Homo sapiens: one gene and its partners. Each later gene encodes a partner of the first gene's protein in a complex. Each region holds a gene or a part of one and is shown on either strand. Other genes may lie near its edges. The genes, in order: CACNB1, CACNG1, STAC3 and CACNA1C.

Region 1 (7,021 bases):
GTACAACTTCCTGACAGTAGTGGTGGTTACTTGGATGTTTACTTTATAATAGTTCCTTGAAATGTGTATGGACATGGGCAGGGTGTGGTGGCTCACACCTGTATTTCCAGCACGTTGGGAGGCCAAGGTACGTGGATCATCTGAGGTCAGGAGTCCGAGACCAGCCTGAACAACATGGTGAAACCCCGTCTCTACTAAAAATACAAAATTAGCCAGGCGTGGTGGTGGGTGCCTATAATCCCAGCTACTCAGGAGGCTGAGGCAGGAGAGTTGCTTGAACCTGGAAGGTGGAGGTTGCAGTGAGCCAAGATTGTGTCACTGCACTCAAGCCTGGGCAACAGGGCAAGACTCCATTTCAAAACAACAACAACAACAACAAAATGTATACTGACACTTTGGGAGGCCAAGGCAGGTGGATCGTTTGAGACCAGCCTGGCCAACATGGTGAAACTCTGCCTCTACTAAAAATACAAAAAAATTAGCTGGGCATGGTGGCACACACCTGTAATCCCAGCTACTCAGGGGGCTGAGGCATGAGAATCATTTGAATTCAGGAGGCAGAAGTTGCAGTGAGCCAAGATGGCACCACTGCACTCCAGCCTGGATGACGGAGCAAGACTCTGTCTAAAAAAAAAAAAGTCTGGGCGTGGTGGCTCACGCCTGTAATCCCAGCATTTTGGGAGGCAGAGGCAGGTGGATTCATGAGGTCAGGAGTTCAAGACCAGCCTAGCCAAGATGGTGAAACCCTGTCGCTACTAAAAATACAAAAATTAGCTGGGCGCAGTGGCAGATGCCTGTAATCCCAGTTACTTGGAAGGCTGAGGCAGGAGAATTACTTCAACCAGGGCAGCAGAGTTGCAGTGAGCCGAGATCATGCCACTATACTCCAGCATGGATGACAGAGTGAGACTCCGTCAAAAAAAAAAAATGTATACTGAATTGGCTTGTGTGGTTTTCTCCATGTATATTAACTTTTACAATAAAAAACAAGAAAGCAAAATGTGGAATTCAGCCCTCTCAGGGTAGAGGCGGGGCACTCAGGAATGAAAAGGGTTGGGGGTGGGGAAGCCCACAATGATACCCAGAAAAAATAATAATAATAGCAGGCCGGGCACGGTGGCTCACTGCTGTAATCCCAGCACTTTGGGAGGGCAAGGCAGGTGGATCACTTGAGGTCAAAAGTTCGAGACCAGCCATGACTAACATGGTGAAACTCTGTCTCTACTAAAAATACAAAATTAGCATGGTGTGGTGGCACATGCCTGTAATCTTGGCTACTTGGGAGGCTGAGGCAGGAGAAACACTTGAATCTGGGAGGTGGAGGTTGCAGTGAGCTGAGATGGTGCCACTGCACTCCAGCCCGGGCAACAAGAGCGAAACTCCGTCTCAAAAACAAAACAAAATAAATTAATTAAATAATAGTTATAGGCCGGGCGCAATGGCTCATGCCTGTAATCCCAGCACTTTGAAAGGCTAAGGTGGGTGGATCATGAAGTCAGGAGTTCGAGACCAGCCTGGCTAACATGGTGAAACCCCGTCTCTACTAAAAATATAAAAATTAGCTGGGCGTGGTGGCACGCACCTGTAATCCCAGCTACTCAGGAGGCTGAGGCAGGAGAATCACTTGAATCTAGGAGGCAGAGGTTGCAGCAAGCCAAGATCGTGCCATTGCACTCCAGCTTGGGTGATGGAGCAAGACTCCGTCTCAAAATAAAATAAAATAAAATAATAATAATAATAATAATAGCAGCCAGGCACAGTGGCTCACACCTGTAATCCCAATACTGGCTTGAGGGAAGGAGTCTGAGACCAGCCTGAGCAATATAGGGAGATCCTGTCTGTTTTGTTTTGTTTTGTTTTGAGATGGAGTTTCGCTCTTGTTGCCCATGGTGGAGTGCAATGGCGCAATCTTGGCTCACTGCAACCTCTGCCTCCTTGGTTCAAGCAATTCTCCTGCCTCAGCCTCCCAAGTAGCTGGGATTACAGGCATGCGCCATCACACCTGGCTAGTTTTGTATTTTTAGTAGAGATGGGGTTTCACCATGTTGGTCAGGCTGGTCTCAAATGCCCGACCTCAGGTGATCCACCCACCTCAGCCTCCCAAAGTGCCGGGATTACAGGCGTGAGCCACCGCACCCAGCCAGCCCTGTCGGTTTTTAAAAAATAAAAGGGGCAGCTGGGCACAGTGGCTTACGCCTGTAATCCTAGCACTTTGGGAGGCCGAGGCAGGCAGATCACCAGGTCAGGAGTTCTGAGACCAGCCTGGCCAACATGGTGAAACCCCATCTCTACTAAAAATACAAAAAAAAATTAGCCGGGCATGGTGGCGGGCGCCTATAATCCCAGCTACTTGGGAGGCTGAGGCAAGGAGAATCGCTTGAACCTGGAAGGCGGAGGCTGCAGTGAGCCGAGATCGCACCACTGTACCCCAGCCTGGGCGGCAGTGCAAGACTCCATCTCAAAAATAAATAAATAAATAAAAGGGGCTGGGCACAGTGGCCCATGCCTGTAATCCTAGCACTTTGGGAGGCCGAGGCAGGAGGATCACTTGCACCCAGGAGTTCAAGACCAGCCTGGGCAACATAGCAAGATCCCATCTCTACAAAAAATAAAAAATCAGCCAGGTGTGGTGGTATGCCTCTATAGTTCCAGGTACTCGGGAGGCTGAGATGGGAGGTCAAGGCTCCAGTGAGCTGTGATCACGCCGCTACACTCAGCCTGAGTGACAGAGAGAGACCCTGTCTCATAAAAAATAATAAATATTTAAATTTATTTATTATTATGTTTTTTGAGACAGAGTCTCGCTCTGTCACCCAGGCCGGAGTGCAGTGGTGCGATCTCAGCTCACTCCAGCCTCCGCCTCCTTAGTTCAAGCGATTCTGGTGCCTCAGCCTCCCGAGTAATTGGGATTACAGGCGTACACCACCACACCCAGCTACGTTTTGTATTTTTAGTAGAGACGGGGTTTCACCACATTGCCCAAGCTGGTCTCGAACTCCTGACCTCAAGTGATCCGCCCAACCGGGCCTCCCAAAGTGCTGGGATTACAGGCGTGAGCCACAGCACCTGGCCTAAAATTAAATTAAAAAAAACAATAATGACAGTAATGACCATTTAGTGTTCCAGGTACCATGTTACACACTTAACACATATTCTCTCATTTATATTCATCACAAAAATAAAAAATCCTCTGAAGTTAAGTGGTATTATTATCTTCCTTTTAATGTGACTTTCCTAAGATCACACAGCTATTAAGAGTCAGGACCAGGTCAGGCACGGTGGCTCACGCCTGTAATCCCAGCACTTTGGGAGGCTGAGGGGGGCGGATCACAAGGTCAGGAGATCGAGACCATCCTGGCTAACATGGTGAAACCCCGTCTCTACTAAAAATACAAAAAATTAGCCGGGCGTGGCAGCCAGAGCCTATAGTCCCGGCTACTTGGGAGGCTGAGGCAGGAGAATGGCGTGAACCCGGGAGGCGGAGCTTGCAGTGAGCCGAGATCATGCCACTGCACTCCAGCCTGGGTGACAGAGCAAGACTGCAACTCAAAAAACAAAAAAAAGAAATTTTTAGCACTTATCAAGCCCTTATTATGTGTGGAAACAGTATAATAACACGCACTTATTATACTTATTATACTGTATAAGCAGGCAGGTATTATAGCCCACATTGTGCAGGTGAAGGACAGAGGAGCAAGGTTCAGGGGTACTAGGAAGTGGCTGGGTCAAGACTTGGCCCTGGTTCTGTCTGGGCTCTCTCTACAGCCCAGGACTGGGGGAAATCATGCCAGCACAGCCCCTCCCCACATCTTTCTCACCTTGGCCTTCTCGAGCTGCGCTAATGCCTGGCGCTCTGCTTCCTTCCTTAAGGCTTCCCGGTCCTCCTCCAGAGATACATCAGAGTCTGATGGACGGCTGGTGTAGGACTCCGCTGAGCCCTGAAAATAGAGAGAGCCAGATCAGGGCCATTGCTGCCCCTCCCAGCTCCTGGGCCTGGGAAGGCATGGAGGTGCCACCCATCATGGATGCCTCGAGCCCCAGCCAGCCCAGCATGACACCACAAGGGCTAAGACAAGGTGGTATTAGGTGGAAGGGACCAGGAGCTGAGATTTCTCAGGCCCCTGGGGAAAGTGTGGCCCTAGTGAGGGTGACAGCAGCAAGCAGGAGATGAAGGCAGGCCCAAGGACAGCTGCTTGGGGCCCAGGGAGGGGTGGGAACCTGATAGGGGCACAAGGCAAGGGAGGAATGCCAGGGACGAGTCTCTACTCCCACTGCTCCTTCCCTCCCCTGCCCCCAGCACCCGCTGAGATAGACTCAGCTGAGGTCCAGTGGCATCCATTCCAGGGACTGCAGCCACCAGCTTCGGCCTGAGCTCTCTGCACTATCAGCCGTGGACGGCCTGCTCCGCAGGATGGGGCCACCACAGATTTTGCCAGCTTCTGTTCAAGGGTAGAGGGAGACAGACTCCTACCTCCCCTGCTCCTCTTAACTGGTACTGCCAGAATCAAACTTCACTACTTACAGCCCCAGTCCTCAGGCTCTCCTAGGACACAAGAGAACCCAAGAGTTCCAGGCTGGTACAGACCGAAGAGGCAAGTTAAGAGCAGGATATGGGACAGGGCTTTCCCTGAAATGAGGGCTGCTGGGTGCCAGACAGCTGGCTTTGACCACAATGACCAACCCAGAGCACAAGGGACTCCTTTAGGGATGCACACATATGTGTAAGACACATGTTGCCCGTACAGACCTGGTAGTGGGAATGCACGTGCTTCTTCATGTGTGTGTGTGGATGTGCAAGTACAAGTGTGTGGAGGAGGGTGTGCTCTATAGTTGGCTGCATATGACTGTGTGTGTACAGCCACATGTGAGTGTACTGGGGGGGAGCTCCCAGACATCTGTGACCCTGAGGTTGGGGGACATGTGAGGGCAGGAGGCAAGAGGTGTGGATTTGTGTGACTATGCAGGGGTGGTGTTGGACAAGGCATAGGAGGTTATGTGGCAAAAGAGGAGGACTGCAGGGATGTAGGGGTTCTTTCCTGAGGGCAGAAAAGGGTCACTTGGCCAGGAAGGTCCATAAGTTTGGCATGGAGGGGACCTGGGAAAGACAGAAACAAAGTCCCACCTCTCCCCAGGGGCCTCAGGTCATTAGCTGGTGCAGCTGCCCATCTCTTTCCCAGACAAATAATGAAAATGGGAGACCCGCGGAGGAAGGGTTGGGGTGGAGCGGGGGTCACTAACAGAAGTGGGGAAAGAGGCATGAAGGAGAGAAGGAGAGAAAACCAGCGTAGCTCCCCCTCTCCCCCCTGATGGGAGCACGCAGAGTCAAAGAGCCAGGGAAACAGACAGGGAGACAGACTAGCAGAGAGGCACTCACCGACCCCAACACACACGCGGGCATGCGCGTGCACACACACACTCACCAACCCCAACACAAATGCAGGCATACGCGCGCACACACTCACTGACCCCAACACACATGCAGGCACGCGCACGTGTACACATACACACACAGTTACATGCACACACACAGACACACATGCAGACGCACATGTGCGGGCAGACACACACACATATGCAGACACACAGGTGCACACAGACACACATGTAGGCATGCGCACACATACACACACATATGCAGACACATGTACGCGCATACACACGCACACATCAGAAATGGCAGAAGACAGGAAACAGTGAGGAGGCATGGAGACACGCTGGAGTAAAGGCTGCCCTCCGTCAGCTTTCCTGAGAGGCTGTTCTACCCGCTGCCACCCCACTCCATCCCCAGCTCACCACCACCACGGTCCGGCTGGGCGCCTCCATCCCGGCACCCTCAGTGCCTGGCCCTGCTGGCCTAGGGGGTGGCCCAAACTGCCCGTTCCCTTGGGGGCTCGGGTTACAAGCAGAGTTGCTACATGTGCAGACTGCTAGGGTATATTTAGCTCAGAGATGTGGCAAGGACTGCCCCCCTCCACCACTCCCCACCACCTACCGGGGATCAGAGCTGGGGAGCTAAAAGGAGGAAGAATTGGAGGCTGGGGTCTGACTCCCTGGGTTGGCAAACACTGAAGGAGCCAAGGTCCTTTTCTGCCAAGAGGGGCAATAAAAGCACAGCGTCATTCTTCCCAGCCCTGGCCATGTCCTGCAACAGGAGGGATGAGGGGGTGATTGAAGAAAGGACTTCCTGTCTGTTCCTATACTTAGAAAAGGCTAGAATGAAGCCTCCCCTTCCTGAACCTCCCAAGTCAGACTGAGGCTCACATGTGCCAAGTGCTGTAGAGACAGAAGAAACGGAAAGAAGGGCCTCACTCTAATTAGTGGTGGATCTGCCTGGCATCACCCTCGCTCCTGGCCCAAGGTGGAAGGGAGGGGCTCATCTCCAGAGGACCCCTCCTCTGTGCTGTCTTCTGCCCTCAAATGCCCTGCCCATTTCCTCTTCAATACACGCCTTTTCCTTGTCTAATCCCAAGCCCCTCTCGCCTTTTTTGGGTACCAGGCTTTGGTGAGATGCTAAGTAGTCATAGCAACCACATGCCTCTCTCAGTCCCTCACCCTGAGCCTAAGATGGCCCAGGGTTGACAGATGAGAGCAGCCGCTTACTGACTGAGCACAGAAGACCCCAGAAAGCTATTCTCAGTTACACCCTTTCAGGCAGGGGTGCTGGGCTATCATCTTCTCTATTATAAAATCAACAGCCTCATGCCTCAACCACCCCCACCCCCGTCACCATCACCCTTTCTCTGTGCTTCTTAGACAGTCATGTCTCGAGGTGAGGAGCGTGTTTCCCTGGCCAGGACCTCACCAGGACTACAGGGACCCAAACATCCTTGCTCTGCTTTTCCTAGGACCTGCCTCCACCCAACCCTGTCACAGATTCTGGGGGAGGACATGGAAGCAGACAGCCGGCAGGGGGAGTGGGTGACAGCCCGAAGCAAGCTGGAGGGAGGCAGGCCAGGCTGTCCCTGAATGAGATGACGCAGGCCAGCAGGCAGCAGGGGAGGGTGCCTGGTGCTGGGGGAGG
Region 2 (7,279 bases), about 28 Mb from region 1:
GACAGGTCAAATAATGACAACTCTCTGGGAATGGGCCTTTGATCCAACCCCATTCTCTCCCCTCCAGAGGCTACTGGGATGCTGATTTTCACTGTGATTACGGAATGTTGGTTTGCAAGGTTACCACAGAGCTGGGAAAGGGAAACAGGAATAAGGCAAGTTAAAACACCACAGAACTCACTGGTCCTCCTGAGATTCACCCATTTTTCTTGCTGGATTGCTGCAAGACTTTGGTTAATTTCCAGAGTTCTGAAAATGTTGATTCTGACCATTTCTGCCAGCCTTCTCATTACTATTATGGAGAAGATTATTTTTGGAGGTTCTTTTTCTATCATTTTTTTTCCTGATGTCTTTCAAAGTTAATATATGTAAAGCGTTTACAACAATATTTGGCACACAGGGCTACATGTATGTGCCATTATTATTATTGTTGTTAATAATAGATGACGGGCCACATATGAACCCACTTCCTCCCTCCAGAGAAGAGTGGTCCCAGGGAGCACAAGAAGGGCAGATGGGGAAGGAGAAAGATGTCCATTTGCAGAGAAAAGAGAGGGAAAAAGGCAGGAACATATTTTGGAAGATTACTGGGGGAAAGGTAGTGCTCAGTGTCACAAGTGTGGGAGGTGTGGTTCATAGCTGGTTAGGCTAAGAAGGCAAAGAGGTAGATCCTGTCAGGCTCAAGGCCAAGCAATGCCTGTTGGCCCCCTGCAATTGGTCCAGTCACCTCTCACCAGCCTGTCTCTTCCTTGTGTGGATTCTGCTCACTGCCCAGTCTTCTGCTCTGACTTTAAAAGGCAGATGGTTCCAAGGACGGGTGAACAGGACTGTAACAGCACGTCCCCATGTGTGGTCCCTGAAGAAGCTGCCTTGCCCTGCCCTGCCCTGCCCTGCCCTGCCCAGGGGAGTTGGCTGGAGGCTGTTCCTGTTTATGGGTGTGCTCAGCAGTGGCCAAGGGGCATGGGCATCCGGGCTATGCGATACCCTGCAAGCACATGGCCACACCTGTCACTCTCAGCCCTGGGACTTGGTGTTTCTACAACAGCTGGGCACTTATGAGTCTTCTGGGCCTCCAGTGGGGCTGAACAAGGGAGGGGATCTCTGGAGCAAGCAGGAGGGAAGGAAGAGGGAGCAGAGACAAGGGAGGATGGGGTCTGTGCTCTTTGCCTCACAAGCAGACTGCAAGATCTTTGGGGACTTAGCCCTAGTGTCCTTGAAGGACAGGTTTCAAGGAACACCTAGTCTGATAAAAGAGGAAATAATCCTGAAAACCAGGTGGGACATCACACTGACATCACTCTGCTCCACTGCCACTGTGGATGGGCGTCTGTAAGCCGAGGAAGGGATCTCACGTTGCTGAGAGTCAGTCCCATATTTTATAGAGGAAGAAGCAGAGGCTGAGATGAGCTTTGTCCTCCCTGGATGGTCATTTGAGGGTAGTGGGCAATGGCGATTAGATCCCTGGCTGCCTGGTCTCCATGAGCACTCTTTCCTCTAAAGTGCTGTATTTGCTAAGAATCCAGAAGCCTCTGCATTTGCAGAATAGAGGCTAGTCACGCGACTACCAGGTACTCCTGAAAAGGACCTTACCTTCAACGTGTGGTTCGGTCACACGGTAGGAAATCGAGGAATACGCTTAAATTACAGGGTGAGGAAATGCTTTGTAACTCTGACAGGGTCTGAGCTAAGACAGGATGCATAGAGGACTGAAGTCCTGACAAAAGGACAGGTGGAGGTCGGGCATGGTGGCTCACGTCTGTAATCCCAGCACTCTGGGAGGCCAAGGCAGGTGGATCACCTGAGGTCAGGAGTTCGAGACCAGCCTGACCAACATGGTGAAACCCCGTCTCTACTGAAAGTACAAAAATTAGATGGGTGTGGTGGTGCATGCCTGTAATCCCAGCTACTGGGGAAGCTGAGGCAGGAGAATCGCTTGAGTCCAGGAGGCAGAAGTTGCAGGGAGCCAAGATCATGCCACTGCACTCCAGCCTGAGCGACAAAGTTGTCTCAAAAAAAAAAAAAAAAAAAAAAAGAAGGTGGGGGCAGGTGGCTCACCTACAGCCTACAGCCATGTCCTGCTTCACAGACATTCAACCTGTGCAGCTGCTCCAGGCCCAGAGCCCACAAGGGCCCATGTGTGGTTTCATGTGCTGCTGTCACTGCCTTGAAATCCTTGGTAATTTGGAGCAAGGAACCCTGCATTTTCATTCTGCACAGGACCCTGCAAATTCCATCGCCTATGCTCTCTCCTCTCCTGCCTTGAGGCCAGGAACAAACCTGCCAGCCCCATGGGTCCCCCTAGCCTGAGGACACAGAGCCACCTAGCTTTTCTTTGCAGGGAGAGAGTGAGCAGGTGGGGCCCAGAAGTCCCTGGGCTGGTAGAGCTGCAGTTCCTTTCTTGAGCCTGCCCAGCTCTCTGCTCTGGGCAAAAAGCCCCAAGGTCCAGCCAGACAGAAATAGCTGGGACAAACGCCCTCGTCTTACAACCCAGCCCCAGCCACCAGCACCACACATGCAATTCATATCTTCTTCCCTGGGCAGAAAAGGCTGGGCGGCTGCCCTATTTCTAGGCAGAGAAACCTGCCTTCCTTCGCAAGGGCAACTTTGCCAGGGGGATGACGGGGAAGAGCAGGAGGTGGGGATCGGGACGGAGGGTGGGTACGTTACCCCCGGGCAGGGTGATGGGCCCGCAGGTCTTGCTGTCGTCCATGGGGATGCGCTTGGTACAAATCCGCCAGAGGCCGAAGTGGGCCGCCTCGCAGGTAGTGTTGTGGTGCTCCATGTGGGGGCTCAGCACAGCCCAGTGGTCGGTTACCACGGCTGTCATGGCCAGCACGATGCCTGCCAGGATGCAGAAGAGGGTCACGCGGACCTTCAGCATTTTGGTCTGGGACATGGTGGTCGCCGAGGCGTGGGTGCCCTGGGCAGGGTCCGGCGGCTGCGTCTCCTAGGGCAGGTGACAAGCCGAGCTTGGGGGGTGGCAGTGGTTGTCGAGCTGGGAGTGGCCACTAAGTTTAGTGTGCCTGGCTGAGCCAGAGTGGGCTGGCCTTGGGGCCGAGGGACGCGGGACGTGCTGAGCAGCTGCCCAGACGCGTCAGGGGCCTGAGGGAGGCTGCTATTAATGCCCATCTCCAGGCGTGGCACCGAGGACAGCTTCTGCTCGGGTTTCAGGGTTTTCTGCCCCTCTGGGAGCCAGAAATACCCCAGTGCGGCGGGGCAGGGTGGCAAGGAGAGAAGGCTCTGGATGGTAGATTGAGGCCTCTGTGAGTAGCAGCTCAGGGTGCCTGAGTTGGGAGAGGGCGAGAGGTGGGCAGCAGGGCCCCGGGGGTGGGGATCTGCCTGCTCTGGGCTGATGGGAAAGGGCAGCCCAGGCCAGGGGAGGAGACCAGGAGCTGCGGGCTGCACGGCTGTCCCGGGCTCCCACGGGGTAAGCCTGTTACCGGCAGGGCAGTGAGTAGGTTCTCATCCTGGGATCTGAGGGGCTAGGATTCTGTCTAATGACATCCCGGGAACCCAGTCCAGGGCCTGTGGAGTCCACCTCTTAGGCAAGCGTTTTAGCCACAAACCCCACGGCATCCCCCAAACCATAGGAAGGTTTTAGGTGGTTCCCAGGTCTGGCCTTACCCAACTCTGATCCCTCCACGAGAACATTACTTCCTTTTCAATTCTCTTTCCATCCCCAAAACTGGGTCCAGAGCAAAGCTCTGTTCGAGGTCAGTGTCATTATTGCCTGTAAAGTGTCCTTTGAAACAAAGCGAGAACGGCCCGAAGAGGACGAGGAATCCTGCTGGACTTGGTCATTCTGTTTTTCAGGGCACTGTTTGGTTTTGCCTTCTATTAACAGCAGGTGATAACGACTTTCCAGTTATGTTTGAATTTGAAAAATAAGTGTGTGAGTAAAAAAGAATGAATAGGTTGATTTATAGGGGATCATTAGGAGCTCATGGGCGTGCAGAGAACACAGAAAGCCCGGGATCGACCACCCTCCGACGGTCCTGTGCACCCGCCTGGCCCCCAGGCTGGTCTCCGAGGCTCCAGCCTCTACATCTCTCCTGGGTTGTGTCATCTCTTCCTTCTCGGCTCACAGGGTGGCCCTTTTTGGGTGTAGCCGAGAGGCTGACGCATGACCAGGAATAGCCTCCTGAGCTGGGTGGGGCCTTGAGCTTCAAAATCCTGGCCTCAGATTGACACGATTTACAGAGACTCTGCCCATGTGGACAGAAATGTTTCGGCCTCCAGCCTTAGAATCACAGAAAGTTCATGATGATGATAATCAGAACAGTGGCTCATCTTCAGTGAGTGCTTACTATCTACCAGGTACCCTGCTAAGCCTTCATCCATTGTCACAGTTACTCTTCACACCAATCCACAAGGGGACTACAACGGTTACTGCCATTTCACAGACAAGGACATGGAAGCTCAGAGACATGAAGTCACTTGTCCAAGGTCACACAGCGAGAAAATGAGGAATCCAGGTTTCAGGACCCAGAGCCCAAAGTCATAACGAATGGTTGGAACTGGGAAGAAACTTCATGATCTATTGTGACAGATTAGGAATCTGCAGCCCAGAGAGGAGATGTGAGGAGCCAGGACTACCTGGTGAACAGCCCCAGGGCTGAGCTGAACCCTCGCATCTCCAGCCACTGGCTTGTGCTTATTGCAGTTCCATCCAAACTTCCATATTTTTAAAATCAGTCTCTCATACATATTACAATCTCCTGAGAGCTTATCTCCCCACTGTTCTCATCTCTGCTTCCCTTCCTCCCTGTCCCCCCACCTCTGTGTTCCCTGTGGGTGCTAATCCATCACAACTGACTGATCACTGACTGACTGTTGACATATGCCACCGCCCCTGCTTCAGCTCGTGGAGAAACTGCCTGTCACCAGGTGGGTAGACCATCTCCATGGGGAATTCCCAGAAGCTGGGACATGGCTGCAGCCTCTGAGCCCTCTCTTGTTGTTTGTGGGGGCCCAGCTTCAGGATCCTGGCACCTGGGGATCTCAGGAGGTGCTGTACAGCTTGATTAGACCTACTGAGTGCCAGGCACCCAGCAAAGCAGTAGCTGGGGAGCCAGAAGAGGGTTCCAGTGTTTTAAGACAGAAAATCTAGAAAGAAGCTATTTAATTTTAGCATTACAAGTAAATACAGTGTCATTGGAAAAATGAAAGTGTCTTTTGAATTTCCTGGTGTGGTGGGGGTGGATGCCCTAAGCTCTTCGGTGCCAAGAGCCTCTGACGGCCTTGGAAAGCACCCTGAAAGGGCCCAGCCCAGAGGGTGCACCCAGCGCCAGCCATGATGACATTGCAGGCCCTTCAAAGATGCCAGGCCTTGGTGAGGACAGCAACCAGGAACTTCTGCTGCTCTTTCCCTCCATGGGGGGCAGGTTTGTGCCCCATGCAGGGGTCCAGAGTCCTCCGCCCCAGTGCAGTGAAAGCATTAAAGATTGATGGCCTCTGCCTTTTGAAGTCATCTTTGTGTAAGTCGCACCAGGAGACCCGCAGCTGCAGCTACTGCGGGCAGGTCCACTTTCTCTTCCCTGTTTACTGAAAGCTCCCTCAAATACACCTTTTCTGCTCACAGAGGTGCTGCCGCGCTGCCTGCCTGGTTCCCCAGGGGCCTGGAAGGGCCAGGAAGGGACTTCAGTAGCCACAGGCATTTGCTGAAAGTTGGGCAGGGCAACATCCATGTCCTCCCCCAAGATCTCACCCTTTCCAGGGCAACAGGGAGAGGAGCATCTCAGGGAGGCAGCATGCGAGAGGGGGACCAAGCTAGAGGGTGATGGAGCTGGCCAGCCCCGAGCAAATCCCTGCACTGCTTGGCTCCAGCTGTGCACGTTCCAGTAAGTCATTAGCCTTTCTAAGCTGCCTCTTGTAAAATGAAGGCAACGGGCCTGGCTGCGGAGCAGGTGGAAGGGCTGGAGGGAGTGCGTTGGACCAGCTTAGCCATAGTAGGCGCTATGGGCTGAATCATGTTTCCCCCAAGTTCATATGTTGAAGCCTAACCCCCAGTGTGATGGTGTGTAGAGGTGGGATCTTTGGGAGATAATGAAATGAGCTCATGGAAGTGGGGCCCTTGTGATGGGAGCAGTGTCTGTATTAGTCTGTTCTCACACTGCTAATAAAGACATGCCCAAGACTGGTAATTTATAAAGGAAAGAGGTTGAATGGACTCACAGTTCCACATGGCTGGGGAGGCCTCACAATCATGGCGGAAGGTGAAGAAGGAGCAAAGGCACGTCTTACATGGCGTTAGGCAAGAGAGCACGTGCAGGGAACTGCCCTTTATAAAACCATCAGATCTTGTGAGATTTATTCACTATCGTGAGAATAGCAGAGGAAAGACTCACCCTCATGATTCAATTACCTCCTACTGGGTCCTTCCCATGACACAGAATTATTACAATTCAAGGTGAGATTTGGATGGGGACACAGAGCCCAACTGTAGCAGTGTTCTCATAAGAGGAGACCAGAGAGTGGCCGTCATGCATTTAATAGAGTACTGAGTACTTGATTCAGCGAAGGACGTAATGGTAAGAAATCAATCGCCCTGGATGCCTGGTACTCACAGTGTTGTGGGAAATTTGGGGGGCTCTTTCCTGTTCTGTTCTCCAGATGTTGATGCTTACTTGTACCCCTGAGATGTTTTTATCCTATCTGCACCAGTCCAACTCCCTTTGTTTCGCAACCCCCCTCTGCTAGCCTCCACTTCTGGCAGCTTTTTCTGGCTGCCCTGCCACGGTGGCCATTTCCCTCCCCATTGATCCAGGACCCTCCTGAGGACTCCAGAACATACAGGCCAGCCAGGGCTTGGGCCATAGTTAAGTTGGGGCACAATAAGGCCCACGCTGGGATTTCTGTCCTGCCAAGCAGAAGACCCACTCCCTCCCCTTGAGGAGTCCACAAACTGTTAGGGCAGCTGAGATCATACTGGGAGGGGCTGTGGGGTCTCCTGGGACAGAACTCAGCCTACGTGGAGAGGTGTGGAGAATAGGAGCTCCAGGCAGGACATGGGCCCCTCGGGAGACTTGAGCCCGCAGCTGGGGTTCTCAAAGTGCGCCCTGTACACCCCTGCAGGAGGAGAGCAGGCAGCCCGTGATTTAAAGACTTTTATGTTTCTTTTTTTGAGATGCAGTCTCCCTCTGTCACCCAGGCTGGAGTGCAGTGGTGTGATCGCAGCTCACTGCAATCTCCGCCTCCAGGGTTCAAGCAATTCTCCTGCCTCAGCTTCTCAAGTAGCTGGAATTATAGGCATGTGCTATCATGCCCAGCTAATTTCTGT
Region 3 (7,613 bases), on another chromosome or scaffold:
AAACCAGGTGGCTGTAGGATGGGATGAGAGGAAGCATTAGAGGTAGCAAAGTAAGGTCCAGAAGCCTATCTCTCCCAGGAGTGCTCACCCTTTCTCAGAAAAAGAGATGGGCTGAGAAAGAAAAAGCAGAGAAATGAATGGGATGGAGGAGAGACCAGCAAGGGGTAGCTGGCTGGTGACATGTCCCCTCTTTTTTTTTTTTTTTTTTTGAGACGGAGTCTCGCTCTGTCACCCAGGCTGGAGTGCAGTGGCACAATCTCGGCTCACTGCAAGCTCCGCCTCCCGAGTTTACGCCATTCTCCTGCCTCAGCCTCCTGAGTAGCTGGGACTACAGGCACCTGTCACCACGCCCGGCTAATTTTTTGTATTTAGAGACGGGGTTTCACTGTGTTAGCCAGGATGGTCTCGATCTCCTGACCTCGTGATCCGCCCACCTCAGCCTCCCAAAGTGCTGGGATTACAGGCGTGAGCCACCACGCGTGGCCATGTCCCCTCCTTGCTCTCCACAGCCTACTCACGATCTTGCCGAAGCATCTCTGCATTTCCACATAGGACTGACAGTGTTCATGGATGTTGGTTTTGCAGTTCTTACAGCGAAGCCCAAACTTGTTGTTGACTTGGGAAAGGGGGAGAAAATTCAGATAAGGTTCCAGATTGCCCTTTCCCTTTGTACCACTGCTGCTACTCTTAGGTTTCCTTTTCTGTCTGGGACCCTACTTGCTCAATCTCTAATAGCATTGCCTTACACCAACTCTAGCCACAGCCCATCTGCTACAAATACTCCTCTCCTATGCCCTCTCCCCAAACCTCTGCCTTCAATATCATACTCTCTTCACTTCCCTTCATGACTCACGAACAATCATCCGGGCACAGACATCACAGAACTTTGGCTTCTTGAAGAAGTGATCTTTGAATTTGTGGGGCTTATCGTTGACCAGCTTAGGAGGTTCTGGGGGTGGCTCCTCCTCCTCCTCTTCTTCCTCTTCCTCTTCCTCATAGATGTAGTAGATGGGCCCACCCCCAGCTCCCACTGCCTCCCCATTGGCCTGGGGCTCTGGGGGAAGTTCCATCTCCTTTGTCCCTGTAGAACCCTTCCTGAGTAACTGCTTTAGCCGCTGTAGCTGAGGGAGGGAGTGAAGAAAACCCAATGTTAAAAGGACTTGTCACCCTCTCTAGAGTAGGGGGGCGCTAGAGCAAACTAGACAGTTTTCTAGTTTCAGGCAAGGAATGTACCCCAGGATTAGGGGGGTATTGGTATTGGGGACTGCAGGTGCTGGCCAGCAAAAAATGAGTCACACACAAATGAGATCAATTTAAGCACTCTTCTTCAGCTGTAATGGCTTCCCAGCCCCCCACACCCAGTGGTCAGAGGCCCAGACTCACCCCACTTTGCCGAGTCTCTGCTGGGAAGGAGGGCTTAGGGGACTCCAGCACCTCCTTTTCTGTCATCCTGCAAGAGGTTGGACCCCACTATGAAATCTAATCCCTTTCATTCTTCTCTCCCTTTCTGTCCCTTGCAGTAGGGTGGTCCTCAAAGGGGAGGCTTTCGGAGAAATGTGATGAGAGATTTTGCTGTTGTTACTGTTGAGATGGGGTCTCACTCTGTCACCCAGGCTGGAGTGCAGTGGCGTGATCATGGCTCACTGCAGCCTCGACCTCCCAGCCTGAAGCGATCCCCCTACCTCAGCTTCCTGAGTAGCTGGAACACAAGGTGCACACTACCTGGCTACTTTTTTATTTTTTGTAGAGACATGGTCTTGCTTTGTTGCCTAGGCTGGTCCCGAACTAGCTCAAGCAATCTTCCTGTTTCAACCTCCCAAATTGTTGAGACAGGCGTGAGCCACTGCACTGGGCCAAATACAGATCCTTTGGCAGGTTTTATTAACAGATTTCATGGAGGTCTAGAAAAAAGCTTAACATGGCCGGGTGTGGTGGTGCATGCCTGTAATCCCAGCACTTTGGGAGGCTGAGGCAGGCGGATCACTAGAGATCAGGAGTTCAAGACTAGCCTGGCCAACATGGTGAAACCCCATCTCTACTAAATATATAAAAATTAGCCGGGTGTGGTGGCGGACGCCTGTAATCCCATCCACTCAGGAAGCTGAGGAAGGATAATCGCTTGAACCCGGGAGGCGGAGGTTGCAGTGAGCCGGGATTGTGCCACTGCCCTCCAGCCTGGGTGACAGAGCAAGACTTCGTCTCAAAAAAAAAAAAAAAAAAAAAAAAAAAGCCCAACAGACTAAAGAGCTTCCCAATTAGTTCCTCAAACTGATACTCATCCTTCCATCCTGAGGGGCGACCCCATAGTTTACAGCCCTTACACAGTGTTCAAAGCTGCGTGGTTTACGTCATTTTCCTATAGGTACTTTGTTTCTCCTGGAAATCTGTGGGCAACAGAGATGTGATGCATACCTTCCCAGATCTCCTCTCTTCAAGAGGTTTAATGTGTGTCCTCGTGTGCACACAAGGAAGGATGGACTGGAGACATTTGTCCTCCCCTACTTTTTTCTTGAGCCCTGGGGGCCCTGTGCCTAGTTCTGTCCCAGCCTGCCTCAGGGCTCAGCTATTTTAAGTTTTCAGGGTAATATGAGCCTTTCCTTCCCTTACTACTTCATTCCCTTCACCCCACCCCCACCCCCACCCCCCGCTTCAATCCAAACTCATCCTAGAGTAGAATAATAATTTTACGCCTAAAACCCAAAAGACTCACAGACAAGGAGAGAAATGAAGAAGCTGAGTAGATTATAGATCAGGGCAGCTGGGGTGAGCAGTCGTGGAAATCAAGAGGATGAAGAGGTAACTTACGTTCGGGATTCCCTAAGTCAGTCCACAGGCTGTAGAGGGAGCTGGGAGCCTCGAGGCCTTGATGGTGGTGCTGGGGAAAAACTGGTCCTCTTCCTTGGGGGCTAAGCCCCCCCAGTACCCCCTGTGTTCACACCAGCTACCCAGTCGCTATTTGTAGACCTCCTAGCCTCCTGCCTTGGTGTCAGGGCTGAAATGACAGGGCTGGAGGAAAGTGGACAGCTGAGAAACACAGCTGACACAGAGAAATTGGACACTGAGAGGTCTGGGGCAGGGCCGGACCCTAACTCCTCCCAACCCCCTAGAGCTGCTGTTCCTTGATTCTTCATCTAAGGCGAACAGGTGAATAATGGCTGAATTCAGGAAGGGACAGTTTCTGTTCATGCTCATTTAACATTTAAGGGGAGTTTATTTTTATTTTTCATTTATTTTTTGAGACAGGGTAAAAAAAGACTAATTTGAACTCATAGAGCTCTCCTATCAGCCATACTAGATGGCTTTTTTTTTTTTTTTTTTGAGACAGAGTCTTGCTCTTGTTGCCCAGGCTGGAGTGCAATGAAGCGATCCGGGCTCACTGCAACCTCCCAGGTTCAAGCGATTCTCCTGCCTCAGCCTCCTAAGTAGCTGGGATTACAGGCGCCCACCACCACGCCAAGGTAATTTTTGTATTTTTAGTACAGATGGGGTTTCACCATGTTGGCCAGGCTGGTCTCGAACCCCTGACCTCAGGTGATCCGCCTGCCTTGGCCTCCCAAAGTGCTAGGATTACAGGTGTGAGCCACCGTGCATGGCTAGATTGCTTTTTATCTGTAGGTGGTTGGAGGAGTACTTTGCTATCCTGTAAGAAAGTGAAGAATATGTAGTATTGCTTCATTCCCTCCAGCAGCTCCCAGAGACATCTCCCCACCCTCCTTCTTGTAAAATTTTGTCCTCAGACTGAAGGGAATTACCAGGGCTATTAAAAAGGGCCAGTTAACACTGGACAGAAGCATATAGCTGCCACATAAGGAATTTTTTAAATCATTTCTAAGTAATGTCCCCTTCCTCATGAGAACTGCAAACTCTTAAAGGTAGGATGGCCAACCCTCACACTTCCTAAACCCTTTTGATTCCCTGATTCCATCTCCCACCTTTGATGCCTCAGTATATAACTGATGGATCAAAGAGACAGATGCCATTCTCATCTCACAGGGGTGCACCCTTCTACTCTTTGGGCTGTGACATGGATGAAAGAGGAGATACTCCCATCTCAGGGGAGAGCAATTTAGAGGTGGCAATGCAGTGCTGCTCTATTCCTTGTATCTGTAAGAAATAAAGGACTGTGTTGGAGACTGGGTCAGGCAAGCTCCTGTAGGATCGTCGTTAGGGATACAGCTACTTGGACCCAAGAGATTTCCAGGGCAACGTGCTTTGTCATTCTCACCCACTACTTTTTTCTATTTAAGGGGGGAGTTTGAAAAGGGGGTGCAGGATGGTTCTGACTCTGCAGGTTCTTTAATGGCCCTGCTCTGACAGGCTGCAGAACAACAGGGCTTGCTTTGAGATGCTCTAAAGGAAAAGCTCCATCTTGCAGGCAAGATGACTTCTGCTCTTCGTCTTTTTTCAGCCACATAGGACAGGGACTGCTGAGCATGTTTGGATAATACAGCATCTTGGCACTGCGAGTTCAGTTGCTGTAGCTTTCATTGTAATAAAAATCTGCTTCTGTCCCTGACAGGTAAAACCCAATCCTCCAGCTTTAGGATTAAAGAAAGGCAGCCAGGCACGGTGGCTCACGCCTGTAATCACAGCACTTTGGAAGGCCGAGGCGGGTGGATCACAAGGTCAGGAGTTCGAGACCAGCCTGGCCAACATGGTGAAACCCCATGTCAACTAAAAATACAAAAATTAGCTGGGCACGATGGGGCACAGCTACTCAGGAGGCTGAGGCAGGAGAACTGCTTGAACTCGGGAGGTGGAGGTTGCAGTGAGCCGAGATATCGCGCCACTGCACTCCAGCCTGGGCAACAGGGCGAGACTCCATCTCAAAAAAAAAAAAAAAAGAAAGGCCCAAGTTCTCCATCCCTAAAGGGTTTTCAGAAGACGAGCTGGGCTGGGAGTGGTGGCTCATGCCTGTAATCCCAGCACTTTAGGAGGCCAAGGCGGGAGATCACTTGAGCCCAGGAGTTCAAGACCAGCCTGGGCAACATGGTAAAACCCTGTCTCTGCCAAAAATAGCAAAAAAAAAAAAAAAAAAGATTAGCCAGGCATGCTAGATCGCGCCTGTAATCCCAGCTACTCGGGAGACTGAGGCACAAGAATCGCTTGAACACGGGAGGCGGCTGCAGTCAGCTGAGATCTGCCACTGCACTCCAGCCTGGGTGACAGAGCAAGACCCTATCTCAAAACTCAACTACAAGGGCCCTAAATGAGTACACAGTACCACAGAATTAATAGTCTGGAAGGAAACCTAGAGGTCACCTACTAAGTCCAAGTCTCTTATTTTACTGATCTGGACACAGATCCAGAGTTGAGAAGTGATATGCTCGATGAACCACAGTGGCAGAACCGGGAGAGCCCAAAGCCATGGTCCCATTAGAGATCTAGCCATCTATCAGAACCGTGTACAGGGAAGAGGATGAGACAGAGGGAATGGTGTTAAAATAGTGTGCGTATGCTAGAGAAAGCCATCCCAACCCACGACAAACACCTCCAACAGCTGTAGGGCTATACCTACCCAGGGCCTCCAACCCTTTACCCATACCAGGGCGGCAACAGAGAAACAGTGACTGATGTCCAGTGACAGATTTTTTTTTTTATATTTAAAAACAAAACCAACCTCCCCCCAAATAACCCCCAAACAAACAAAAAAACAGATTAAATAAAATTTACAGTGAATATACCCAGCAAACATCTGTATGTGCAATTAAATACTGTGTCTGTTACTGCGGCACGAACCTCAAACAAACAATATACAAGTGTTCTGGGGGGGCCAGGGGAATCCCAAGTTTTAACTCTGTGGGGTCTAGGAAGACAAGATGGGGAAGTGAGAGAATGGGGCAATCAATTTTGTTTATCTTAATTCTGTCCATATAAATATATTCATAAAGACCAAAAAAGGAAAGGAAGCTTGGGATGTTAAGGTAATAGGAGGACAGTGTGGGACTTTCCCAATTCTACCTGACCAAAAAATGAGAAATTAATTTTATGATAGGAGAAGAGATTTAAAAAAATGATAGAAGAGGATGGAAGCCAGGCACAGTGGCTCACGCCTGTAATCCCAGCACTCTGGAAGGCCAAGGCAGGTGGATCACCTGAGGTCAGGAGTTTGAGGCCAGCCTGGCCAACATGGTGAAACTCCGTCTCTACTAAAAATACAAAAATTAGCCGGGCATGGTGGCGCGTGTCTGTAGTGCCAGCTACTTGGGAGGCTGAGGCAGGAGAATCACCTGAACCCAGGAGCTGGAGGTTGCAGTTAGCCAAGATCGTGCTACTGCACTCCAGCTGGGGTGACAAGAGCGAAACTCCGTCTCAAAAAAAAAAAAAAAAAAAAAAAGAAGAGGATGGGAAGAAGAGTGATGCAAGGGGGGTCAACCAGGGAAAAAGAGAGGACCCATGGCAGGGGAGCAAGAAGGAGTCCAATGCCAGTGTAGGTATCTGTGTTTCCATCTTCATCACTGTCTTAGGTTCCAGTTTAACATCAGTTTCCTTACTTCCTGCCTCTGTCCATGGTCTGTCAGGATCCTTCAACCCCCTCCACCCTGCCCTTGCTCCTTCTGTGACAGTCCCTTTCCCCTCCTCCATTTATTGGGAGCTGGCTCGCTCCAGGATCCTCAGGTCATAGTTCTTTTTGGCCATTCGAAGTTTGAAGCGACTCACGGAGTTGTTGAGACGAAGGGAGGCATTTTGGGCAGCCAGGGGGCTGGGGAACACAGCCACAATGGTGTACAAGGCAGCGAGGTCCGAGTGGCGGCCATTCTCAGCAGTCCCACTGTTGTCCCCCCCACCCCCTCCAGGCAGCCCCTGAGCATCCTTGAGCCACTGGATCTTGGCGCCAGACATGGCGAGCTGCGTGAAGAGTTTGTCCGCCTCAGTACGGGTGATGCCCTCAGGGAGATCTGTCACCTCCAGCACCCGCCCCAGGACTGGAAGGGGAGGAGAGAGGACATGGTTGTGAGAGGAATAGGACAGGAAGGACTTGACAGCAGCCCAGCAGAGAAGTGTCCAGCTGACTAAGTCTGTATACAATGTCTTCAAAAGCCTGGCCTTTCTCTCTTAGCCCTTTCTTCCCCTCCCCACCATCCCAGCTCTGATCAGGGCAACTAGGAGAAAAACAAATGAACCTTTCTATTCTCCTAGCCCAGAGATACAGGAAAGAAGGGACAGGGAATCAGAATCCTGGGTTTCTGAGCTAAGAACCTATACCTCAGTTCTCTCACAAGGTGCTACTGCTATGAAGAAAATGTGGCTTTTGCTAATGTTCTTTAACAATAATGTATCAATCTGAAATATGTTCCATAGTTCCCTTCCCACTCAGAGGCTGGCTCAAATAGATTCTTCCTTCTTATCATCTCAGGAAGTCAAGTTTCCCTTCCTTTCCTTGTTTAGGAAATTGCTCCAAATCCCAAGACAGATCTTGTTCACCTAGTGGGAGGCTTGTAGGACGAGAGTTTCTCCCCCATATTCTCTACCAATCTTCTCCTAAACTGGGTCTAGGACTACCAAAGGTAGATGTCGTAGATTAGGGACAGGACACTAATTAGAAAACTCTTTGTTAATAAGAGGCAACTCCCATAATTGTGTTATTCCCACTTTTTACCATGATCTTCCTC
Region 4 (7,021 bases), on another chromosome or scaffold:
TGTTCCCTTTCCCCCAACCACATATAGAAAAGCACTTGAGTTCAAAGGTAAAGCTTGTCACACTCCAAATACAAAATGATTTACTTTACATGCAGCAAAATATACAAGAAGTGAATCCGAAAACCAACTTAATTCAATTCATTATATTCGCTTGGCACAATTGCAATTCAGTTTTAAAAAAATATTTGAAAAATACTGAAACTGACCTGAATTCAAGTATAACGGTTTCTTCAACAGAAACATTATCAATGCAATAAAACATTACACGGAATATATTGAAGCAAAATGCCTTCTTGTGTTTTTCCCTTAAATTTCTGTCTTTTTTTAAAATACAGTTTTAATGCCAACACAACTCACAATTGTATTTTTAAATGAATATTATTGCATTGTTTTTGCATATCTTGTGGGACAGAAAATGCAAAGAGTTACTGATTCCCGTTTCAGAAGCAGAGACAGTGGTTTGTTTTTGCTTTCAAACGGCCCCAGATTCAGATCTTCCCACAGCTAAACCAGAAAGGGGGGACTGCGTAGTCACTGGTGTGCACGGGCACATGGTGTGGGTGCATATACACGGGCAGGACATATGCACACAGACAACCCACCACACACACACGCGTCGCACACACTCGGAGACTCTCTCGCGCATGCTCCTCTCTCCCAAACCCACCTGTACACCCAGCATAAAAAGGAACCCAACTCTATCACCCACATGTGCAAGACCACATCAAGTGCATTGCCAGTTACCTTTCCATTAGATAACCGAACCAAACCAGAACAAAAATAGGTTACTACCTAAGGAAATGATAACAAATTATTGGGCATACACAATGGTTGGTAAAACTCTCCTGCAGCGGCTTCTATTGAACCTCCGTGGAAAAAGGAAACCACAACCGTTTAAATAATACAAGAAAACCAAACCCGATGTACATTGGCAAAAGTGAAAACAGAAAGGTGAGGGGGCTACAGGACTTTGTAAACACTCTTCTTCCTCCCCTCCCGCTGGGAAAGCAAAATAAAACATTTAAAAAAAACCAAAACCGAAAAGAAACTGCAACATGCTGTCAAGAAAAGTGTCAAACCACAAAACAAAAGAGCGCTCAGCGGAAGCTCAGCACCACCTGGTTGGGCGGAGCCGGCGGCGCAGCTCCTCCCTCGCGCTGCCTGCGGGCCGGCGGCTGGCCGGGAGCTCGGCGTGGCCCGTGCCGGTCGGGGGATCCCGTCGCAGGTGGGCAGGGACGGAGTGAGCCGCACCACTGCCGGCCCGACGCCCATCCCCAGAGCTCCGCGCCCCTGGAGGCCTCCTCCTCCCTCTCCGGGCCGGGTTGGGGTCCTCCTGGAAGTCCTGCCCCGCTCCCTTCTCCAAATCCGCAGGGCCCTGGCTCTAGGGAGACAGCGAGGCTCGTACAGAATATGTGCAAATGGTTTCTACAAGCAGAGTCGAAAGACACCCGTTTGCTGTAGGGTCCTTTTGGTGAGGGCGCGCGGGAAGCCGGGGTGCTCTCCCCGCGGAGGCGCGGCCGGGCCCGGGGCCTGCGAGCTGGGAGAGGGCAGGCGCCTTCCTCGCGCCCCGGGACCCTCGCCGCCTCCTCTCCCCGCCTCTGCAGACGCAGCCGGGCGCCTTCCTCCCGGAGGGCGGCTCGCGCACCCAGGCTCCGCGTCTGGTCCCAACAGAAATGAATGAAGACGCTGTTCCGGTTAACTCCAGGTCACGAGAACAGTGAGGCACTTCTGAAACGAACCCATTAGGAACATTGAAACAAATAAAAAAAAGCCCGCATCTGGCAGCGCCCACTACAGGCTGCTGACGTAGACCCTGCTGTCCTGGAGCTCCTCCTCACTCGGTCGACCCCGCGCGCGCACACAGCCCGCGTCCTCTTCGCCCCCGGCTCGGTCCTGCCCCGCGTCCCTGCAGTTCACAAAGGGTAAGAGGGCGCCATTGGGGCTCTGTGGGGCGCCCCCGCTGAGGATGTTGTCGGCCGCGCTCTCCATCTCCTCTATGGTCATGTCGCAGGCGTCGGCCAGCTCCTGGGTGGTGACCTCGATGAACTTGGGATCTTGAGCAAACTGCCCCAGTCCTTCTGAAATCAAGACCTGAAGGAGCGGGGTGGGAGCCATGAAGAACCAAAGGAACATTACTCCTGGAGCCCAGCTCTTCCCTTGAGGGCTAGAGCGAGGGGGTATCTGGTAGGTCACTTGGGGAAGTGTGCGTGTGTGCACGTGTACGTGTGTGTGTTGGGAGGGGCACCCATGGGGAACAAGTGGAGATGGAGCATCTGCCAGAATTAGGGATGTGCAGGCCAGAGAAGTTTTGGCTGGGGTGGTCAAACACTGTCATCAAATATATGAAGACTTGCTTATGGCCCAGCACGGTGGCTCACACCTGTCACCCAGCACTTTGGGAAGCCCAGGCAGAAGGACTGCTTGAGCCCAGGAGTTCGAGACCAGGCCCAGGCAACACAGGGAAACTTCGTCTCTACAAAAAATTTAAGAATAATTAGCTGGGTGTGGTGATGCACACCTGTGATCTTAGCAAGGCCAGAGACTGAGGTGGGAGGATCATTTGACCCCAGCAGCGCCAGGCTGCACTGAGCTGTGATTGTACCACTACACTCCAGCCTGGGTGACAGAGCGAGACCCTGTCTCAAAAAACAACCAAAACAAAAACCAGAGAAGGTTTGGCTCTCAGAGGGGCCGGGGGGTTGCCCTGATGCTGTATCAGCAGATCCCAGCCTGCCTCTCTCCTTTCTGACACCCACTGAACCTTTATACTATTCTTTCAGAGAAACCATTCTCCCTGGTGAAACTGCTGAGACAGGCCCACTGCCCATTGCCTGCTGCTGCCTTTCCAGGGGTGAGGTATCTGTGCAAACACGGCGCATGCCCCTGCCTTGCTTCTGCTGGGAAGGGCCAGCAGGTGACCCTTAAGCTTCTCTGTCCTCCCTACCGGCTGCTTAGTGCCTGGCTATGGGAAAATCGGCTCCTGAGCCAGCGGGTCGGGGGAAGCTGAGTGCAGCCTGGCACTCGCTCCTTTCAGGCATCTGTTTGTCTTGCTCCTTGCCCACGCCACTCATTCTCTCCTTGCCCTGCTTAGTTTTTCTTTGGCACTCCTGACCTTCCTGATGTGTTATATATGTATGTGTTTATTATCTGTCTCTCCTCACCATGATGTGAGCTCATGAGAGCAGAAGCTCTGTTTCTCAGCTGTGTCCCTGTACCTAGAACAGGGCCTGCACATGGTAGGCGCTCAGGGAAGGTCTGTGAAATGAATGCAGGATGATCGAGGCCACAGGAATACCAGACTTTGAGAGGTAAACCTTGGAAGCCACCTGGTTTAACGCCCCACCTCCTGCACCACAGCCTGACGCCCGGATGAGCACAGTCTCTGCTTGGCTATGTCTGATGATGGGGGGCTCACTACCTTTCAGGCAAGCCCCTCTCATCTTGGAAGAGCTCATTTGGGAAGGTCTTCCCCATGTGAGCTGAAATCTGTCCGCTGGTGGGCTGAGCCTGCCACCCTTTCCCCATCCCACCCGTTGCAGGTGTGAGAGGTGTATCGCACCCTCCAAAGTCACCTCCTCTCCAGGTTTTCTTCCCGAATTCCCTGAAACGGTTCTCCTAGGAAATGGTTTCTAGGAACCTTGCCATCCTGGTCATCCTCTGTTGGGTTTGTTCCAGTGTGTCAAAGGTCCCTAATAATGTGGTGCCGGGATTGCACTAGATGCTCTGACCAGGCAGAGCACAGTGGGACTGAAAGCTCGCTTGTTCTAGGCTAGTGGCTCTCAACCTTGCTACACGTTAAAATCATCGAAGAGCTTTAACAATCATCAGTTAATCTGTCCCGGGTTTCCAAAGCTCCCCAGGTGATGCTCACGGGCAGTCAGGCCTGAGCACCTTGGATCTTGCCTGTCTGTGTATAAAGGCAGCCAGGCTCACATTTGCATGTCGAGCAGCTGCAGTATAAGGGATAAGTTGCTCAGTGGTTTCTGCCGCCCTCTGCAGTGGGCCCAGCCTCAAGAGAGCCCATAGCATCTTGTGCAGTCATGGCTTTCCGCACACGAGCCCTCCTGCAGCCCTGAGAGGGAGGGTCTTTCGGGCTCAGATATTGACTGCAATGAATTTGGCAAGAGCCAGGTGCTCCCTTCTCAGCCCCGCATGCCAAGTCCCCTTGTTGCCCGTGGCCTCTCCCCCCTGCCCATCTGCGAGTCACCTACCGCTTCCACCAGGCTGCTGGCACTGCCGTGGAACTGCCTCCCTGGGGCCCCAGCCTGGCTGGGCACCATGAGGGAGACGGGCCGGACTCTCCGGGCGGCGCTGCTGCCCCCGCCACCGGGGGTGGTCTCAGCCCAGGAGCCGCAGTGGATGGATGGGAAGCTGCTGTTGAGTTTCTCACTGGACTCGACCCCCTCAAGCCGCAGGGTGGGGACGGGCTGTGGGGGCCAGCCTCGGCTGCCAGGTGTGGCTGGTGGGGTGGCAAAAGGCCTAGGGAATGAGGCAGGGGAATGGCTTCTCTGGAGGAGGGGGCTCAGGCCTGCCACTGCCAATGCCTGCGGACACACAAGGAGTGTGAGTTAATAGGAGTGGCCGACCCCAAACAAGGCAGGCCCCTGCTTCTGAGCAAGCACTGCTTTGCAGCTGCTGTGTCCAGCTAGCTCCACCTGCCTGGTATTCCCATGCCATTATTTTCCCCTGTCGGTCCTATCTCAACCTGGCATGACTTTCAACTATCTCAAAATACATCTTAGGATCATCTGGGTCTGAAGTGATCTCTTTCTCCTGTAACTTCTGAAAGCTGGGATTGGGTGAAGTCGTGGTAACCTGCTTTTAGCCCTGGCCTGGTCACCTGTCAGCTGTGCATTCTCTCGCTCTTGGTTTTGTCCTCAATAGAATGGAGAGCAGGGTGAGGCCTGCATGTCTGTAAAGCCAGAAAACGAATGCTGTCTATCCATCTGCCCTGTGGGGCTGGTGTGAGGCTCAAGCGCAATGAGGTCTGTGAAGAAGCGCTGTGCACCTCACAAAGAGTTGGGAAAACCAGTATTTGTGGTTTTAGTTCTCACAGTTAATGGGGCCATTCATAATGCCCTGCCAGTCTCTAGCTCAGGTTGTCTTTGAGCCATTGTTAAATCCGGTGCTGTATTGTGATTAAAAGATTCAGGGCTGGGAGCAGTGGCTCATGCCTGTAATCCCAGGACTTTGGGAGGCCAAGGCGGGCAGATCACCTGAGGTCGGGAGTTCAAGACCAGCCTGACCAACACGGAGTAACCCAGTCTCTACTACAAATGCAAAATTAGCCAGGCATGGTGGTGCATGCCTGTAATCCCAGCTACTTGGGAGGCTGAGGCAGGAGAATCACTTGAACCCGGGAGGTGGAGGTTGTGGTGAGCCGAGATCGTGCCATTGCACTCCAGCCTGGGCAACAAGAGCAAAACTCTGTCTCAAAAAAAAAAAAAAAAAAGTCACACGGTACGCCCTCTGTCCCTGAATATTCTTGAGCATCCTGAGGGTAGGGACCAGGCCTGTCTGGCTGTTGCCATGACAACCTGCCAGGGCAGAGGCTCTGCAGGGTGAGCTGCTCTGATGGGATGTGCTCCCGGGAGAGAGCGACACTGTGGTGGGGAAAGACCACCTCTAGGGTCACAGAGTACAGGAGGAGAAAGAGATGAAGAGGAGAGTTTCGTGCCTACCAGTACGACAAGAACAGATAGGTGAAATCGACTTCTAGAAATCTTTTAAGATAGCACACACAGTGTCCCCACATCCTTCCACCTCCTGCCCCTGCCCATGGTGGTCCTCAGCCTGGGGCTCCTGGGTCCCTGGGAATCTGAGAAAAGTGTAAGGCCATATTCATTATTTCAGAAAGCCCAGTGGAAGACAACACCACACAGGCTAAGAAAACCTGTTTATTTTTTGGAGCTGAAGTACTATCAACTCAGCCAGGCCACACTGGCCATCTCATGCTGATTATGACTTTTGATTGGCAGTTGAATGCCTTTGGGTACAAAGCATAGGTCTATTTAAAACATAGGTCCATGCTATAAAAGAGTATAACTTTAATAAGGTCAGAATGTTGGGAAACCCAGGTTTAGACCTCAGTTTGCCTGGGGTTAATAGACTGGCCTTAGATAACACTGAAGTTCAAAGATACTAAGGCATGTTTGGTCCTGGCATCTTGGATTTCACTGTCTCAGCTGGAGTCAGCCATGCCAAGAGACATTTCATTTATGGAATCTCCCTGGACCTGCTTCCCACGGATGTCATTCCCTACTCTTGACCATGTTGCTGGTGGGTTCTTTAATCACTTCTTTATGTCACTGGATGGATTTTTGTGTGGCAAAATTTCCAGGTATATTCAAACTCTAGGTACAAGTACATCTTCCTGAGTGCCCTGAGGCATAGGCCAGTGTCAGAGGCGTCAGTGGCATCTGTGGCAGCCTAAGAAGAAAGCTCAGGTGGAACCTGCAGCTGTGGGTCCTCAGGATCACACAAAGAGCTCCTGTGCACCAGCACTTCCTAGGCCCCCACCTGCGATGCTGCAGACCTTGCCGTGGCCCTCACCTGCACAGGAGTGTGAAGCCCTACAGGGATGGCTCTTAGGGCAGGGGCAGGACGTGCCAGCCATCTGAGACAGGCAAGACCCACTGAAGTCTTCAGGATTTGTCCGTCACCCTGGGGACTGTCTGGCCTGCTGGCAGGTGACAGTGGCCTGTCCAAAAGTGTGAGCTACCTGATGATGAACCAGATGCAAGGGCAGGACTGTCTTCTGAGAGATGTCTCCCCCTCGGTCCTTCTGTCGCTTCAGACATTCCAGGTGGAAGGAGGCCCTTCGACCTGCAAAGCCAGCCAGAGAGCCACCATCAGGGCAGGAAAACAGGGCACTGGCCTGTGACAGTTTACACCCTGGTGGGGTGCCAGGAGCAGTAACTATGGCCCGAGACGCTCCTCCTTTCCCCTCCCCTCGTCTGAGACGTATTCTGGTGTCCAGGGCTCATCCCTGCACACCCTGCCTTTGGAATGTTGTCTCCTT

Evidence for each region.
Region 2: CACNB1 (region 1) and CACNG1 share a complex: the UniProt entries of both Homo sapiens proteins name them as parts of the calcium channel complex.
Region 3: CACNB1 (region 1) and STAC3 share a complex: the UniProt entries of both Homo sapiens proteins name them as parts of the calcium channel complex.
Region 4: CACNB1 (region 1) and CACNA1C share a complex: the UniProt entries of both Homo sapiens proteins name them as parts of the calcium channel complex.

The regions. Positions count from the first base shown.
Region 1 is NC_000017.11:39,187,656-39,194,676, forward strand, and holds part of CACNB1 (voltage-dependent L-type calcium channel subunit beta-1), read right to left. Parts: intron 5,843-7,021; exon of another isoform or gene 5,824-5,842; coding exon of another isoform or gene 5,794-5,823; intron 4,440-5,793; exon of another isoform or gene 4,340-4,439; coding exon of another isoform or gene 4,301-4,339; intron 3,939-4,300; coding exon 3,819-3,938; intron 1-3,818. UniProt on the Homo sapiens protein: Regulatory subunit of L-type calcium channels. Regulates the activity of L-type calcium channels that contain CACNA1A as pore-forming subunit.
Region 2 is NC_000017.11:67,040,278-67,047,556, reverse strand, and holds the start of CACNG1 (voltage-dependent calcium channel gamma-1 subunit), read right to left. Parts: upstream 3,004-7,279; 5' UTR 2,897-3,003; coding exon 2,668-2,896; intron 1-2,667. UniProt on the Homo sapiens protein: Regulatory subunit of the voltage-gated calcium channel that gives rise to L-type calcium currents in skeletal muscle. Regulates channel inactivation kinetics.
Region 3 is NC_000012.12:57,248,188-57,255,800, forward strand, and holds the start of STAC3 (SH3 and cysteine-rich domain-containing protein 3), read right to left. Parts: upstream 3,001-7,613; 5' UTR 2,806-3,000; intron 1,544-2,805; exon of another isoform or gene 1,451-1,543; 5' UTR 1,450-1,450; coding exon 1,384-1,449; intron 1,122-1,383; coding exon 854-1,121; intron 617-853; coding exon 519-616; intron 12-518; coding exon 1-11. Other genes in the region: R3HDM2 (R3H domain-containing protein 2), read right to left, coding at 6,586-6,926. UniProt on the Homo sapiens protein: Required for normal excitation-contraction coupling in skeletal muscle and for normal muscle contraction in response to membrane depolarization. Required for normal Ca(2+) release from the sarcplasmic reticulum, which ultimately leads to muscle contraction.
Region 4 is NC_000012.12:2,685,970-2,692,990, reverse strand, and holds part of CACNA1C (voltage-dependent L-type calcium channel subunit alpha-1C), read right to left. Parts: intron 6,826-7,021; coding exon 6,722-6,825; intron 4,545-6,721; coding exon 4,212-4,544; intron 2,852-4,211; exon of another isoform or gene 2,781-2,851; intron 2,185-2,780; exon of another isoform or gene 2,092-2,184; coding exon 1,792-2,091; 3' UTR 1-1,791. UniProt on the Homo sapiens protein: Pore-forming, alpha-1C subunit of the voltage-gated calcium channel that gives rise to L-type calcium currents. Mediates influx of calcium ions into the cytoplasm, and thereby triggers calcium release from the sarcoplasm.